4 linked regions of the Homo sapiens genome follow. The gene in region 1 interacts genetically with each later gene. Each region holds a gene or a part of one and is shown on either strand. Other genes may lie near its edges.

What was found. Genes that interact genetically often act in the same process or in processes that back each other up.
Region 2: changes in GBF1 (region 1) and ERGIC1 together harm fitness less than expected from each alone (positive genetic interaction), as found in Homo sapiens cells (one study listed by BioGRID).
Region 3: changes in GBF1 (region 1) and GALNT2 together harm fitness less than expected from each alone (positive genetic interaction), as found in Homo sapiens cells (one study listed by BioGRID).
Region 4: changes in GBF1 (region 1) and ARF4 together harm fitness less than expected from each alone (positive genetic interaction), as found in Homo sapiens cells (one study listed by BioGRID).

Annotation. Positions count from the first base shown.
Region 1 is NC_000010.11:102,369,390-102,374,531, reverse strand, and holds part of GBF1 (Golgi-specific brefeldin A-resistance guanine nucleotide exchange factor 1), read right to left. Parts: intron 4,822-5,142; coding exon 4,757-4,821; intron 4,672-4,756; coding exon 4,548-4,671; intron 4,359-4,547; coding exon 4,287-4,358; intron 4,149-4,286; coding exon 4,054-4,148; intron 3,826-4,053; coding exon 3,672-3,825; intron 1-3,671. UniProt on the Homo sapiens protein: Guanine-nucleotide exchange factor (GEF) for members of the Arf family of small GTPases involved in trafficking in the early secretory pathway; its GEF activity initiates the coating of nascent vesicles via the localized generation of activated ARFs through replacement of GDP with GTP.
Region 2 is NC_000005.10:172,949,251-172,953,183, forward strand, and holds the end of ERGIC1 (endoplasmic reticulum-Golgi intermediate compartment protein 1), read left to right. Parts: intron 1-1,458; coding exon 1,459-1,566; 3' UTR 1,567-3,433; downstream 3,434-3,933. UniProt on the Homo sapiens protein: Possible role in transport between endoplasmic reticulum and Golgi.
Region 3 is NC_000001.11:230,259,238-230,262,737, forward strand, and holds part of GALNT2 (polypeptide N-acetylgalactosaminyltransferase 2 precursor), read left to right. Parts: intron 1-240; exon of another isoform or gene 241-344; coding exon of another isoform or gene 345-526; intron 527-3,335; coding exon 3,336-3,428; intron 3,429-3,500. Other genes in the region: uncharacterized protein LOC124904542, read right to left, coding at 345-526. UniProt on the Homo sapiens protein: Catalyzes the initial reaction in O-linked oligosaccharide biosynthesis, the transfer of an N-acetyl-D-galactosamine residue to a serine or threonine residue on the protein receptor.
Region 4 is NC_000003.12:57,590,845-57,594,344, reverse strand, and holds part of ARF4 (ADP-ribosylation factor 4), read left to right. Parts: intron 1-3,500.

The sequences.
Region 1 (5,142 bases):
CTCACAGCAGCCTCAAACTCCTGGGCGCAAGTGATCCTCCTGTCTCAGCCTCCAGAGTAGCTGGAACTACAGGCATGCACCACCATGCCCAGCTCATGTTGCCCTTTTATAACCACACCCACCTCCTCCTTCCTGCCCCCATCCCTAATCCTTAGCAATCTGTCTTCAAATTCTTTTTTTTTTTGAGATGGAGTCTTACTCTGTTGCCCAGGCTAGAGTGCAGGCAGGATCTCAGCTCACTGCAACCTCTGCTTCCCATGTTCAAGTGATTCTCCTGCCTCAGCCTCCCAAGTAGATGGGATTACAGGTGCGAGCCACCACGCCTGGCTAATTTTTGTATTTTTAGTAGAGATGGGGTTTCACCATGTTGGCCAGGCTGGTCTCGAACTCCTGACCTCAAGTGATTCACCAGCCTCAGTTTCCCAAAGTGCTGGGATTACAGGTGTGAGCCACTGCGCCCAGCCTGTCTTCAAATTCTAAAGTTCTGTCATTTCAAAAATGTTATATAAGTGGAATTATATATTACATAACCTTTTTAGATTGGCTTTTCTTTCACTCAGCATAGTTCCCTGGAGATGTCTGTTGCTTTAAATTGCTGAATAGTATTCCATGGTGTGTATGTACCACAGTTTATTCACCTATTGAAAGTCATCTGGGCCGATTCCAGTTTTTGGCTATTACAACTAAGGCTTCTATAAACATTCATGTACAGGTTTTTATGAGAAAGTAAGCTTTCACTTTTCTGGGATAAATGTCCAAGGGTGCAATTGCTGGGTTGTATGGTAATTATATGTTTCATTTTATAAGAAACTGCCAGCAGAGTAGCTGTACCATTTTACATTCCCACCCAGCAATATATGAATGACCCAGTTTCTCCACGTCCTTTCAGCATTTGGTATTGTCACTACTTTTTATTTCAGCCATTCTGAAAAGTGGGTAGTGATGTCTCATTGTGTTTTTATTTTTTGGAGTCTTGCTCTGTCACCCAGGCAGGAGTGCAGTGGCACGATCTCAGCTCACTGCAACCTCCTGCGTTCAAGCGATCCTCCCACCTCAATCTCCTCAGTAGGTGAGACTACAGGTGTGTGTGACCACGCCCAGCTAATTTTTGTATTTATTGGTAGAGACATGGTTTCACCATGTTGGCCAGGCTGGGCTCAAACTCCTGACCTCAGGTGATCCACCCACCTCAGCCTCCCAAAGTGCTGGGCTTACAGGTGTGAGCCTCATTGTGGTTTTAGTTTGCAGTACTCTGATGGTTAATGATGCTATCTTCATTTCATGTGCCTATCTGCCATCTGTATGTGTTCTTTGGTGAAACATCTGTTCCTATGTTTTGTCCATTTTCTATTAATAATTGGATTGTTTTATCACTGTTGTGTTTTGAGAGTTTTTATATTACAGATACCTTTCTTCAAATATGTGATTTGCAAATATTTCCTCCTCGTCTACAGCTTGTCTTTTCATCCTCTTCACATAGGCTCTCATAGAACAAAACTTTTAAAAATATTAATGTAGCCCAACTTATCAATTTTTCCTTTTCTAGATTGTGCTTTTAATGTCAAGTCTAAAAATTATTACTTTTTTTGAAAGAGAGTCTCCCCCGGATCTGTTCCATCCAGACAGTGTTGAGGCAAGAGACAGATCCACAGGACTGCCAAACATGCTAAAAATTCTTTGCTTAGCTCTAGATCCTGAAGATTTTCTCCTGTTTCTAAAGTTTTTATAGCTTTACATTTAAATCTATGATCCATTGGAGTTAATTTTCCTGTAAGGTATGAGGTTTAGGTCAAGGTTCATTTGGTTTTTCCTCCTATGGATTTTAATCACTCCACCACTTATTGAAAAGGCTATTCCTCCTCCACTGAATTGTTCTTACATCTTGGTCAAAAAATCCACTGAACATATTTGTGTTGAGCTTATTTCTGGTCTCTCTATTCTTTTCCATTGATCTACGTGTCTGTCCCTCCATCGACACCACATAATCTTGACTACTATAGCTATACAGTAAGTCTTTTTTTTGAGACAGAGTTTCGCTGTCCAGGCTGGAGTGCAATGGTGTGATCTTGGCTTACTACAACCTCTGCCTCCCAGGTTCAAGTGATTCTCCTGCCTCAGCCTCCTGAGTAGCTGGGATTACAGGCATGCCCCACCATGCCTGGCTAATTCTGTATTTTTAGTAGAGACGAGGTTTCTCCATGTTGGTCAGGCTGGTCTCGAACTCCCAACCTCAGGTGATTGCCTGCCTTGGCCTCACAAAGTGTTGGGATTACAGACGTGAGCCACTGTGTCCAGCCGAGAGTAAGTCTTTTTTTTTTTTTGAGATGGAGTCTCGCTGTGTTGCCCAGGCTGGAGTGCAGTGGCGCAATCTTGGCTCACTGCAACCTCCGCCTCCCAGGTTCAAGCGATTCTCCTGCCTCAGCCTCCCGAGTAGCAATCAGGCGCTCACCATCACGCCCAGCTAATTTTTCTATTTTTAGTAGAGACGGGGTTTCACCACGTTAGTCAGGCTGGTCTTGATCTCCTGACCTCGTGATCCACCCGCCTCAGCCCCCCAAAGTGGACAGTAAGTCTTAATACCAGAGTGATTCTTTTTTTTTTTTTTTGAGACAGAATCTCACTCTGTCACCCAGCTGGAGTGCAGTGGCGCGATCTCAGCTCACTGCAACCTCCGCCTTGAGTTCAAGCGATTCTCCTGCCTCAGCCTCCCAAGTAGCTAGGATTACAGGTGTGTGCCACCACACCCTGCTAATTTTTGTGTTTTTAGTAGAGATGGGGTTTCACCATGTTGGCCAGGCTGGCCTTGAACTCCTGACCTCAAGTGATCTGCCCGCTGTGGCCTCCCGCAGTGCTGAGATTACAGGCATGAACCACAGCAACCGGCCCAGAGAGAGTGATTCTTTCCACTTTATTCTTTCTAGCTATTCTAGAGCTTGTGCCTTTCCATCTAAATTTTAGAATAAGCTTACCTATGTCTACAAGAACCTTTCTGGGATTTTTATAGGAGTTATGTTGAATTTACAGATCAATTTGGGGAGAAGTGACAAAGTTACTATGTTGAGCCTTCCAATCCATGAACATAGTATGCCTCTTCATTTATTTACATCTTCTTCAATTTATTTTGTAGTTTTGTAGTTTTCATCATACAAATCTTATACATGTTTTGTCAGCTATATATTAAGTATTTCACTTTATTTGGAACCCTTGTAAATGGTATTGTATTTTAAATTTCAGTTTCCATATTGTTCATTGTTAGCATGTAGAGATATAATTACTTTTTGTGTATTGATCTCACATCCTGTGACCTTGTTGAATCCACTTATTAGTTCTATGCTTGTTGTTTTTTGTAGTTAAGCAAAGAGATCTCAAGAGGGTCATAAGCATGACAGGAAACCAGGTATAGGGCTGAGACTATTATAAGGCAGTAGCAGGCCAGTCCTACAAAGCAGATTCATAGGAGGCTGAGGTGCCAAACACAAGCTCCATGCCTGAGGCCATTCCAGGCTCACTCCCAGTACCACCCGCTAGACTGCACCAGCCCTGTGGTTGGTCACTGGACTCATGCTATGGGGCACTAAATGTACTCTCTGTCTCAGGCCATATTCATAATTGACAACTGTGGCCTTAATCCCTTGCATACCTGCCCACTCTCCAAGATGCATTCTGCTTACCTGAGCACTGATCTCTTCTCTCCGGAGAAGCCGAATGGCCAGGCGTAGCAACCCCACCACTGCCCGCTCCACAAGGAAGCAGAAATCTTGTGCCTGAACACAGAGGTGGTATAGATGGTCTCGAACAGTCTGCCACACACAGCCCACACGATCCCTGTGTAGACATAAAGGAATGAAGATAGTCTCAGCCAGAGGGGCCACTGGGCAACAGGTCCCCTAGGCCTTTCAGGACTCATTGGTATTATACCCTAAGTAGACAGGTATGATGAGTAAGCTTCTCCCCTGCTGCCTACAGTTCCCCAGAGCCCACTCAGCAAGATGGCTTCCATCCCTTTGGCACAAGCCCAGCATGGGGTCTGCCTAAAGACTACGCTCATCTTACCTGTTCTCCAACACAATCCTTAGCAGCATCTCTAGGCAGAAAGCAGCATCTTCCTCATCATATGTCTCTTCATCTGGTGTCACTGAGACCAGAGCCTGAAGGGGAACAGCAGCAGGAAAGTAGGCATGGAAAAGAAGCCAACCACTGGCCCTGCCCTGACAGAAATAATACTGTCCCTGTCACCCCTCCCAGATTCAGCCAGTTGTTCCATGTTTCCTTTCTTCATCCTTTACCTTCATGAGCTCCTGTAGTGACTCCAGCTGGAGGAACTTGCTTTCTGTGATCATTTTTTCTGGGTCACATTGCTAGAGAGGGCAAAAGAGAGAGGGGGTCTTTGACAAAGGCTGAAGAGAACAGAATGTCCCCAAGAGCCAGGGGGAGAGGGCAGAGTCAGCCCTGGTTACAAATCCTGGATGATTTATTCTTCAGTTCACCAAGTAGCATCTAATAGGAAGGTGTTTAGGCTTTCTCACCAGGGGTGGATGGGCAGTTACCTTTATACACTCTAAGGCCACTCTCTTGGCCTCTTGGTTTTCAGTGGATGGGCCCCGAACACTAGACTGCTCAGGACCACTCAGTGTTAGCCAGCTCACAAAGCTCAGCACTGTTGACTCTCCTCTGTAGAAAAAGGGCACATGGCCTGGTGAGCCCCAAAGTTCTGACTCTCCCTCCCCAAGCCCCTGAGCCTCTGGTCTGCTCTTACCGGTTTGATGGTGTCTCTTCCCGCTGTAGAGAGATCTTGCCATTGGGATCCACGAAATCTTCTACCTGGAAAAGTAAGTCAAAATAATTTCTTTCCATGTGTCCTTTGCATTTGTGCCCGCCTCCACCCACCAAAGTTCTCTGGATTTCCTCCTCTAGTCTTCTGCCCCTATGCTATTGTGCCAATTGGTGACTGGCAATGGCATCTACCAGCCTTCTTTTACAGCTATCCCCCAAGATCTGTGGTCTTACATTTGAGGCATTCCTGGTGAGCTGTGGCAGGCATCAGGCCCAACATTACTCTCAACCACTTACTTCTATGTACAGGTAGCATACAATGTTGCAGCTCTTGCCTTGTTATCGCTCACTAGTCTCCTACTAAGAATT
Region 2 (3,933 bases), on another chromosome or scaffold:
TGAGAAGCAACAGGGTGTCACATTAAGAGCACAGACTCCAAAGTTTTGAACCCCTATTCAGCCACTTGCTGTGGCATTGGACGAGGGATTCAGGGTCTCTGTGCCTCAGTTTCCTTGGCTGTGAAATAGTCTAAGAATAGTACCTACTGCCTAGGGTTGAGCTGGGGATTCACTGGGGTGGTAGGCATGGAGCACTGTAACCCACCTGGCCCAGGGAAGGTGCTGTGTAAGTACTGTGTATTTTGTTGTGGTTAGTATATTATGATGTGGCAGACAGTTATGAAGTACAGACATAACAGGTGACATTCATTATCCTCCTGCTACCGCCATTCTCAACCAGGGGCAATTTTGACATCTGGGGACATTTGGCAATGTTTGGAGACATTGTGGTTGTCACAGCGTGGCGGGGGGGGGTATGATTGGCATCTCCTGGGTAGAGGCCAGGGATGCTAAATCCTTCTGCAAAGGACAGCCCCTGTGGCAAAAAATTCTCTGGCCCCAAATGTCAATGGTGCCATTAGAAACCTTGCCCTGGCCAGGCACAGTGGCTCATGCTTGTAATCCCAGCACTTTGGGAGGCCGAGGCGGGTGGAGCACGAGGTCAGGAGATCAAGACCATCCTGGCTAACACGGTGAAACACCCCCACCCTGTCTCTACTAAAAATACAAAAAATTAGCCAGGCGCGGTGGCAGGCAGCTGTAGTCCCAGCTACTCGGGAGGCTGAGGCAGGAGAATGCCGTGAACCCGGGAGGCGGAGCTTGCAGTGAGCTGAGATCACGCCACTGCACTCCAGCCTGGAAGACAGAAAAAAAAGAAAAAGAAAAAGAAACCTTGCTCTAATAGAAGCTTTCTGGTAGCACCAAAGGCCTCTCTGTCCTTTGTAGCACTTGCCTTGGCTATAATTTTGCATTTATTGGTATGATTATTTGCTTACTACCCATCAAGTCCCAGGATGCCATTTCTTGGCTGTGTGACCTTGGGCCCCTGGGACTGCCTTTCAGAACCTCCATTTCCTTCATCTGCAAATGGGATTGTAAATATGTGATAAATTCAGAGTTGAGGTTAAGACCACAGGCTCCAGAGTTAAGACGTACCTGTGTTCAAGTTGCATCTCTGCTAGTGGTGAACTTAGGCAAGTCACCTGATGAACCTCAGTTTCCTCCGCTGTGAAATGGGTCTAATAATTCCCTTCCTCATTCAGAGGGTGAATATGGGAATTAAAGGAGCTCATAATGGTGAAAATTATTTTATTATTATTAAATCCACCATCCAACAACTGGTTTTCTTTGAGCCCTAAGTATGTTCCGGACTTGGTGACTATGTAGTGGGTATTATGGGCTTAACGGGCAATGTCTGCCTTGCAGAGCCCATCATCTCATGATGTGGGAGGGGTCTGGCCTGGTTCATCCTCCAGCACTGACTTCTGACACTCCCACCCCACCCCTGCCCTCTTGCAGATCTGTGCCATCATTGGCGGGACCTTCACCGTCGCCGGCATCCTGGACTCATGCATCTTCACAGCCTCTGAGGCCTGGAAGAAGATCCAGCTGGGCAAGATGCATTGACGCCACACCCAGCCTAATGGCCGAGGACCCTGGGCATCGCCAGCCTTGCCTCCAGTGCCCTGTCTCCTTTGGCCCTCAATCTGGTCCCAAATCTGGCTGTGTCCCAAAGGGTGTGTGGGAAGTGGGGGGAAAGTAGAGGATGGCTCGATGTTTTGCAGCTACCTCTTTTCCCCGTGTTTCTTTTTAGACAAATTACACTGCCTGAAGTTGCAGTTCCCCTTTCCCTGGGGAGCCCCAAGAACAGAGTCAGGCAAGGGGTGGGGAGTCCAGGGATCTTGGGGACCCCTCCTAGGAGAGCTGCAGTCTCTTCCCTCAGGGGAACATCCCAGAATGCATATCGATCAGCTCTCAGCCAGGCTTCGACAATCTCGCAGCCCCCACTAGGTGGACACATTAATGATTTGGTTTCTCCCCTGGGCAGCCAACCTGCCCCAGAGGCACCAGACCTGGGCTTTCAGCTTTGGGACCAGGCTGCCCAAAGGTACTCCTTTATACACCCGGCACCTTCCACGAAAGATGGTACTTCCCAAGCAAGCCCCTATGATTTGTCACTATAGATGGAACCCTGACTTCTGCCCCATCCCTTCCTGCCCAACCTAGAACCCAGGCCTCAAGTCTTTACCCCACCCCTTTCTTGTTCTTCCAAGAAGCAGATGCCCAGTTGCTCAGCAGCAGCGGTAGAGACTTGAATCTGCCCACCAGTCACAAGGCGGGTCACAGATTCCTCTTCCTCTCTTCTCCTCGTTCCTCTGAACCCTCCACCAATGTGCCTCAGCCTGTGTGCTGTGTGGCAACAGCATTCTGGTTCCCACTGCCAAGATCTCCCACCACTCTGCTGGGATCTGCAGTGGCAGGGAGTGGGGGTTGTGTAAAGGGGAAGTCATCTTTTGAGATCCAGATAGACATGGTTTGTGCACTTACGTCCAGATGGGAAGCATCCTTCCTGCAACCCTAAAATAATCATGCAGCCTCTCAGACGGACGCCATCGGTCCCAAGGCCTTAGGTGGAGGAAGCAAAGCAGGCCAGGCCTGTCCTGTCCGTGGACCTCTACCTTCTGGACTCCCTACGGGTGCAGAGCACTTGGGTTTCTCTACAGCCATCGTGGCCCACTTGACACTGTGCTCCTCCATCAGCTGGTCACATGCCAACACGTTCCCAGCCCCTGAGGCAGCTCCAGGGTGCCCCACCTGCTCCTGAGGTGGGTCCCTACCCTGCTGCTCCTCTTCATCCTTTCCCTTTTGTCCTGAAAGGGAGGAGCAATGGTCCAGGCATTAATTCCACCCAGGGAATTTTAGCTATGCCCTCATGTCCCAGGGAGAGAGCCACACGCCTGTTTTCCATTTATAGCAAGATTGTTTGCATACTTTTGTAATGAAGGGGAGTGTCCAGTGGAAGGATTTTTAAAATTATCTTATGGATAGCTCAAGTCTCTGCCATTTGTAATTTTTGGCTCTAAGCTCCGATTGGAGACGCTTCTCCTTGTGCATGTGAGTTGACTGATGTTGTGAGTGTAAATGCATTTGGTTATTTCTGGTATCGGTGGCCACTTGGATGGATTTTTTTACATTCTGTTCCCCAGTTACAGGAAGGAGTCCCTTTGGTGTGTGAATATGTGTGCCTGTAGAGGGTGGGGCAGGGTGGGGTGGGGATGGAAATGTGTGGCATGCACATGAGTTGAAATTCTTTTATGCATTTTTTTGAAGAAAAAAAAAAAAACAACTCTGAGGACATAGGGGATGTCAGTTTCCTATGGAAGAGACACCTCTGACCCGTTATTCTTATAATCAAAATCTGAAGGGAAAAAAATGTTTTAGTTCTTTCCCCACTCGTTGGGTTCAACTAGATTAAAAGGCTGATTTTCAGAAATATTATGGTGTGATTCTTTCTACCTTGACTGGGGCTGGGTGACCCAAAGGCTGGAATCACAGCCAGAATGGAATTCACTTCTAGAGGAGAGAAGGTAGAAGAGTTGAAAAGGAGATCTGTGAGGATGATCAGAAAGTCAAACCCCGGCCAGGCACGGTGGCTCACGCCTGTAATCCCAGCACTTTGGGAGGCCGAGGTGGGCCAATCAGGAGGTCAGGAGATCGAGACCATCCTGGCTAACATGGAGAAACCCCGTCTCTACTAAAAATACAAAAAATGAGCCAGGTGTGGTGGCGGGCGCCTGTAGTCCCAGCTACTCCAGAGGCTGAGGCAGGAGAATGGCATGAACCCAGAAGGCAGAGCTTGCAGTGAGCCGAGATCGTGCCACTGCACTCCAGCCTGGGCGACAGAGCGAGACTCCATCTCAAAAAAAAAAAAAAGTGAAACCCCCTTTGGCCAGGTGCAGTGGCTCACACCTGTATTCCCAACACTTTTGGGAG
Region 3 (3,500 bases), on another chromosome or scaffold:
GGAATATTTATATGTACTACCTAATGAGATATCTTGGGGCTGGGACCTAAGTCAAAGTACAAAATTTGTTTGTTTTATATAGACCTTATACACATAGCCTGAAGTTAATTTAATACAATACTTTTCATAATTTTCTGCATGAAACAAAGTTTGTGTACATTAAACCATCAGAAAGCAAAGGCGTCACTGTGACCGCCCACTGGATTCACCTTGCCCGCTGCCCAGATGGAGCTGACTTACCAAGATGGGAATTGCAATAGAGAAAGAGTTTAGTTCACACAGAGCTGGCTAAGTGGGAGACTGGAATTTTATTACTTAAGTCAATCTCCCCCAAAATTCAGAGGCTAGGGTTTTTCAAGGATAATCTGGAGGGAGCTGGGGACTAGGGAGTGGGTGCTGCTGATTGGATGAGGTGCAATCATAGGGGTGTGGAAAATGGTCCTTGTGCCTGCCGAGTCTGCTTCTGCATGGATGGGTCCACAGGACAAGCTGGAGATCTGGATGGAGTCATCAGAAGTGCAGAAGCCTGAAAAGACATTACAAAAGGCCAATCTTACGTTCTGCAATGGTGATGTTATCTGCAGGAGTAATTGGGGAAGTTGCAAATCTGTGGCTGATTTGTTAGTCCAACAAAGGCAGTCTGGTACCCAGACAAAAAGAGGGTTTGTTTGGGGAAAGGGCTGTTACCATCTTTGTTTTAAAGTTAAACTATAAACTAAGTTTCTCCCAAAGTTAGTTCTGCCTATGCCCAGGAGTGAACAAGGGCAGTTTAGACGTTAGAAGTTAGATGGAGTCAGTCAGGTCAGATGCCTTAAACTGTCAATTTTGTCATTGTTAAATTTTTTGCAAAGGCAGTTTCGTCACTATCTCATGTTGGTGCTCAAAAAGTTTTGGATGTTAGGACATTTTGGATTAGGGATGCCCAACTTGTAATAGATGACATTTAATATTTATTTAATACTTATTTAATACTACCTAAATACTTGCAAATACCTGCAAAAACAAGGAGGGCCTGGACAAAAGTGAGTCTCCCTCGGTGCCACTGTATCTGCAGCACTGAGACTGTTTGGTGTAGATACCAAATAAATACCTGAGTGAACCAATAAATAAATGAATAAAAGGAGCTAGCACTGAGTAGCACATGGAGATCATTCCTTGGGGCTGCCTAGTTATCCTTTTCTATTACAAAGACAGAAAAGAGTTGCTTTGCGTTTAGGAATTTTTAAGTGATTTAGTCACTTAAAAACTTGAGTGATTTGAAAACAGTATGACTGGAGTTGATAAAACCTTTAAATCATTAAGGCTGAAAGGAACCTAGGACATTCTGGAATCAAATCCTTTCATGTCCCTGTTGGGGAAATCCAGGTGCCAGATGTTACAAGTATTTAAGTTAATAACTGGTTAAAAACTGACTAGGCATAGGTTAAGGCATAGGTCACTTAGCAAAACCCCACTAACAATGTTTAGTGGCTCTTCTGAGAAATGATATGTATGATCCAGTATCCCCCAGCACTTTAAGTACTCATTGTTGTATCTGTATATTTTTTAATAGAGAGAAAGTAAAAATTCATCAGTCTCATCACCAAACCAGTTGTGCCATAACACTCTCATAATTTGATGAATTCGTCTGTCAGTATCTATTTCTGTCTCTCTCTCTTGTTTGCTCACTGGCTCTCCTTCTGCCTCTACACACATATCCACTATATGCAATTCTGCAAACTATTTTATTTTCCCACAAGTCCAGGACATCATTTCTGTCAACATGTAAGATGCACACTCATGTTTTTAGTGGTCACAGAATATTTCATTTGATTCCTTCCTCATATTTAGTCATAAAGTTTCTCTTTTTTTTTTTTTTTTTTGCTATTATAAACAAAGCAGAAGTGAGCATATTTTCACATGTATATTTCATTCCTAATTGATTGCTGCCTTGAGATAAATTTCTAGAAGTAGAGCTGCTGGGTCAGAGAATAGGTGCATTCATATGTTCTTATCTGTGTTGAATGGCATTATGGATAATAGTCCATATTCTACTTACTAAAATGAAAAAGTATATATATCACCTTATATGAAAGATATAGGCCCCATACAGAAATTATTTTAATAATGGTATCTCAGATCAGTTGAAAGTTTCGCCATTTTAAGGAATTATTTTAAAAGGCGAGCATTACCTCCTTACTGTATTTATTTTGGAAGAACACAGTGCCTTCCTATGGGGTTCTTAAGGAGGGCTAGCTATAGCCTGAAGTGGGAGTCCACCTTATAGCCGAGACCAGAATATGGGAGCAAAGAGGTTAGCTGTGTGCTTGCTACTTCATGGATGCTTTAAGATAATTCTTGGCAGAATACACTGCTGATACCTATGCAGATGATAGCTTTTAATGCATGTCAGACATTCAAGAGTAGCTTGTCCCAGGGGCTTTATTTATGGCAAATCATGGTTCTCTCTATGAGATTTAAGTACATGGTTTTCTTTCCTTCTAGAAAAGCCGGCTGGGCGCGGTGGCTCACGCCTGTAATCCCAGCACTTTGGGAAGCTGAGGCGAGTGGATCACAAGGTCAAGAGATCGAGACCATCCTGGCTAATGTGGTGAAACCGTCTCTACTAAAATTACACAAAAATTTTAGCTGGGTGTGGTGGTACATGCCTATAGTCCCAGCTGCTCAGGAAGCTCAGGCAGGAGAATCGCTTGAACCCGGGAGGCGGAGGTTTCAGTGAGCCGAGATCTCGCCACTGCACTCCAGCTTGGCAGCAGAGCGAGACTCCATCAAAAAAAAAAAAAGCTAGTGCAAACATGGCAGTCTTTCAGCTTAGCCCCGCAGAAAAGAAAGTGATTTTCCCAGGAACTCTTATCTTATGTAGTCTGAACTTTAATGCAGAGCTGTCTGATAGTGTCGTAGCCGTGACGGAGAAGGCCGTGGGGCCTGGAATCTCCTTGCTGTGCTCTGTGGCCCCGGCCCTCTGTGGACGCGTAATGTGAGAGTTTTTAAAGAGTAACTTTCTTTTGTCCTTCTTTAAGATATAGACCCCAGTCCCTCCTTTAAAATATTGGCTCGTGCTGTAATTTCCACTTTGCCTTTTGCCCTTTGACCATCTGTGTGACAAGAAAGCCATTCCAATGGTTCAGTAAGCACCCGCTGAGGCTGGCTCCCCACAGGTCCAGCTCGAGGTGCTGGTGGGGACAGCCCACCCTCTGCTGTGTGCCGTGATCCCAGCTGGAGCTGCTGCACACCCAGAGGGAGCCGCCTCAGTCACACGCCAGCAGACAGGTGCAAATGGAGTGATGCAGACAGAAAGAAAGGAAATCACACCTCAAGATTTATTTTCTTTCTAGAAACACCCGCCGGGCAGCAGAGGTCTGGATGGATGAATACAAAAATTTCTATTATGCAGCAGTGCCTTCTGCTAGAAACGTTCCTTATGGAAAGTAAGTGGCAGTTCTGCCTTCTCACAATTACTGGGGATTCTTGGGGTGTGGGGGTGGGAGGTAAGGGGCTGC
Region 4 (3,500 bases), on another chromosome or scaffold:
AGGCCAGGTTGGGAGGATCACATTGAGGCCAGCCTGGTCAACATAGCAAGACCCCGTATCTATTTGAAAAAAATAAAAATAAAGCAATAGCGTCTGTATTTTATTTTGTTTATTTTTTTTGAGATGGAGTTTCACTCTTGTCTCCCAGGCCAGAGTGCAATGGCATGATCTAGGCTCACTGCAACCTCTGCCTCCTCAGTAGCTGGGATTACAAGCGCCCGCCACCAAGCCCAGCTAATGTTTGTATTTTTAGTAGAGACGGGGTTTCACCATGTTGGCCAGGCTAGTCTCGAACTCCTGACCTCAGGTGATCCACCTGCCTTGGCCTCCCAAAGTGCTAGGATTACAAGCATGAGCCATCACACCCAGCCAGCTTCTGTATTTTGTATATATTTTTTAAATAATTATGTTTTTTTTCCTTTTGAGTAGCTGAGACAACAAGGACATGCCATTAGACCTGCCTGGCTAATTTTTGACATTTTTTGTAGCAAGAAGGTCTCACTATCTTGCCTGTTCTTGGGCTGAAGCGATCCCGCCCACCTCGGCCTCGAAAAGTGCTAGGGTTACAGGGCGAGCCACTGAGCCTGGCTGCATTGTCCTATTTTAAGTCTGGTTTCTGTATCTTGATCCATGATAAGATGTAATGTTGTTAAGTGAATCCTTAAATTATGTATATATCCAAAAATACTAATGTGTTCTGCAGAGGAATTACTAATTCTGATCTCTTTACTTTGAACTTTCCAGTTCTTGCCTGTTGAAAAGCTGAAAAAGTGTTACTTTTAAAAAGTTTGCTGATATCAGTGTAGTGTAGTATGCCAGTGTAGTTCTGTATTGTCTTGAATGTGACTGTGGTTTTGGGGGTCTAGAGATGTTCAGGAGAAAGGATCCTATATTTGTCACTTTAAAAAATATTACCAAGCTAAAGAGTGGTGTTTTATATTTGTTTCTTAGCATATTTTGTAAATCCATCTATTTATGTAATTTTTTTATGTTTTTCCTCTTGATTCTAAAAGTAGTATGTGTTCCTTCTGTTACATTTAGAAAACAGGTAAAAGAATAAAGTGATAATTACCTATCTGTAATTCCACTATTCTGTCATATTTACTCTCAGCCTTATTTTTATTTTTATTTTTTGAGACAGGGTTTTGCTCTGTCACCCATACTCTGGGGCACATACAGGTGGCATGATCATAGCTCACTGTAGCCTTGAACTCCTGGATTCAAGCAATCCCTCCTGCCTTAGGCTCTGGAGTAGCTAGGACTACAGGCGCCACTATGCCCGGCTAATTTTTAAATTATTTTGTAGAGAATGGGGGTCTTGCTCTGTTGCCCAGCTGATCTCAAACTCCTGGGCTCAAGAGGTCCTCCTGCCTCGACCTCCCAAAGTGCTAGGATGACAGGTGTAAGCCACCACACCTGGTACACGCTCAGCCTTTTAAGAGGAAGTTTTTGTTCCTCTAAAATTGTAGTTGTGATGTTTAGTTTTGTGTCCTCTCTTTTTGATTTAGCTTATTACAAGCATTTTCTCAGGTTATTGGTTGAACATATAACTGCCAGCCTTTAAAAAAACAGGCTCTTCTGATTATGTGAATATAGGAAACAGAAAAGGCAAAAATCCTGTTTCATGCCACTGGCTGATAGGTACAGCCATCCTTAGATGCACCCTTTTGCATTATTATAGTAGTGCAATAGGCTGTCGGAAACTTTGATAATTTGCTGCTAATTAACTGATAAAAATGTAGATGTTTCTCATCCGTGTGTAGAAGCAGAACCTAAGTTCACATTTTTCCGTATAACTGGTGGCCTGAGTTTCAGTTTGGTTGGTCAAGCATCTGATGAATTTGATAAAAAATATTTGAGATGGAGTCTCACTGTGTCACCCAGGCTCGAGTACAGTGGTGCAATCTCAGGTCACTGCAACCTCCGCCTCCTGGGTTCAAGCAATCCTTCTGCCTCAGTCTCTCCAGTAGCTGGGATTACAGGCCCCCTCCCACCATGCCCGGCTAATTTTCATATTTGTAGTAGAGAGGGTTTCACCATATTGGTCAAGCTGGTCTCAAACTCCTGACCTCAGGTGATCCACCTGCCTCATTCTCCCAAAGTGCTGCGATTACAGGCATGAGTCACCGTGCCTGGCCAAAATATTAAGATACAGTATGTCCACCAGAAAAACCTAAAGGCAGGATGGCAGCATGTAAATAGTATTTGAGGTCTCTGGCATCAGAACTAGGTTTTTTGGTTTTGGCTTTTTAGAAAATTTTTTAATAAAAAAATCAAGATATAATACATAGACCATAAAGTTTACCCTGTTAAAGTGTACAGTTCCGTGGGTTTTAGTATATGTATTCAAAGTTGTGTAACCATCACCATTGTCTAATTCCAGAATTTTTCATCATCCCTCAAAGAAACCTGATACCCATTAGTAATAATTCCCATTCCCCTTTCTTCCCAGCCCGTAATCTGTTTTCTGTTTCTATGGGTTAATCTATTCCGGACACTTCATTTAATGGAATCATGATTTATGGCCTCTTTGTCTGGCTTTTTTCACTTGGCATGATGTTGTCAAAGTTCATTCATAATGGCCGGGCGCGGTGGCTCACGCCTGTAATCCCAGCACTTTGGGAGGCTGAGGCGGGCAGATCACGAGGTCAGGAGTTCGAGACCAGCCTGGACAACATAGTGAAACCCCATCTATACTCAAAATACAAAAATTAGCCGGGTGTGGTGGCAGATACCTGTAGTCCCAGCAACTCAGGAGGCCGAGGCACGAGAATCCCTTGAACCCGGGAGGTGGAGGTTGCAGTGAGCTGAGATCGTGCCATTGCACTCCAGCCTAGGTGACAGAGTGAGACTCTGTCTCAAAAAAAAAAAAAGAAAAGAAAAGAGAAGAAAAAAGTTCATTCATATTATAGCGTATATTAGTACTTCATTCTTTTTTTTTTCCTTTTCATTAAATTCACATAAGCACCTCATTTCTTTTGATGGCCAAATAGTAATTACATTGTATGGATAAACCACATTTTATTTATCCATTCATCAGATGATAAAAATTAGGTTGTTTTCACTTTCTAGCTCTTCAACATTCATGAACAAGTTTTTGTGTGGGCATGTGTTTTAAATTCTCTGATAAATACTTAGGAGCGGAATTGTGTCATGGTAACCGTCTTGAACATTTTGAGGACCTGACAAACATTTCCATTTTACATCCTCGTTTACATCCCCACTAGCAATATATGAGGGTTCTAATTTTTCTGCAAGACTCAGGTTTTTAAATATCTGTTCTTCTGTTTCTGTGACTGTGGGGGACATTTCTGGACATTAAATGTCTCATCTGAAAAATGAAAGGTTATTGTGAGAATTAAAGTCCAAAAATGTATAGAATCACCTACTATGCTTAGAATGCAGTAAATATTCAATTTTAAATTATTATTTTAAACTATTACGCAGCCTGGGCACCATACCATGGCAAGACCTCATCTCTACAAAAAAATTTTAAAAAT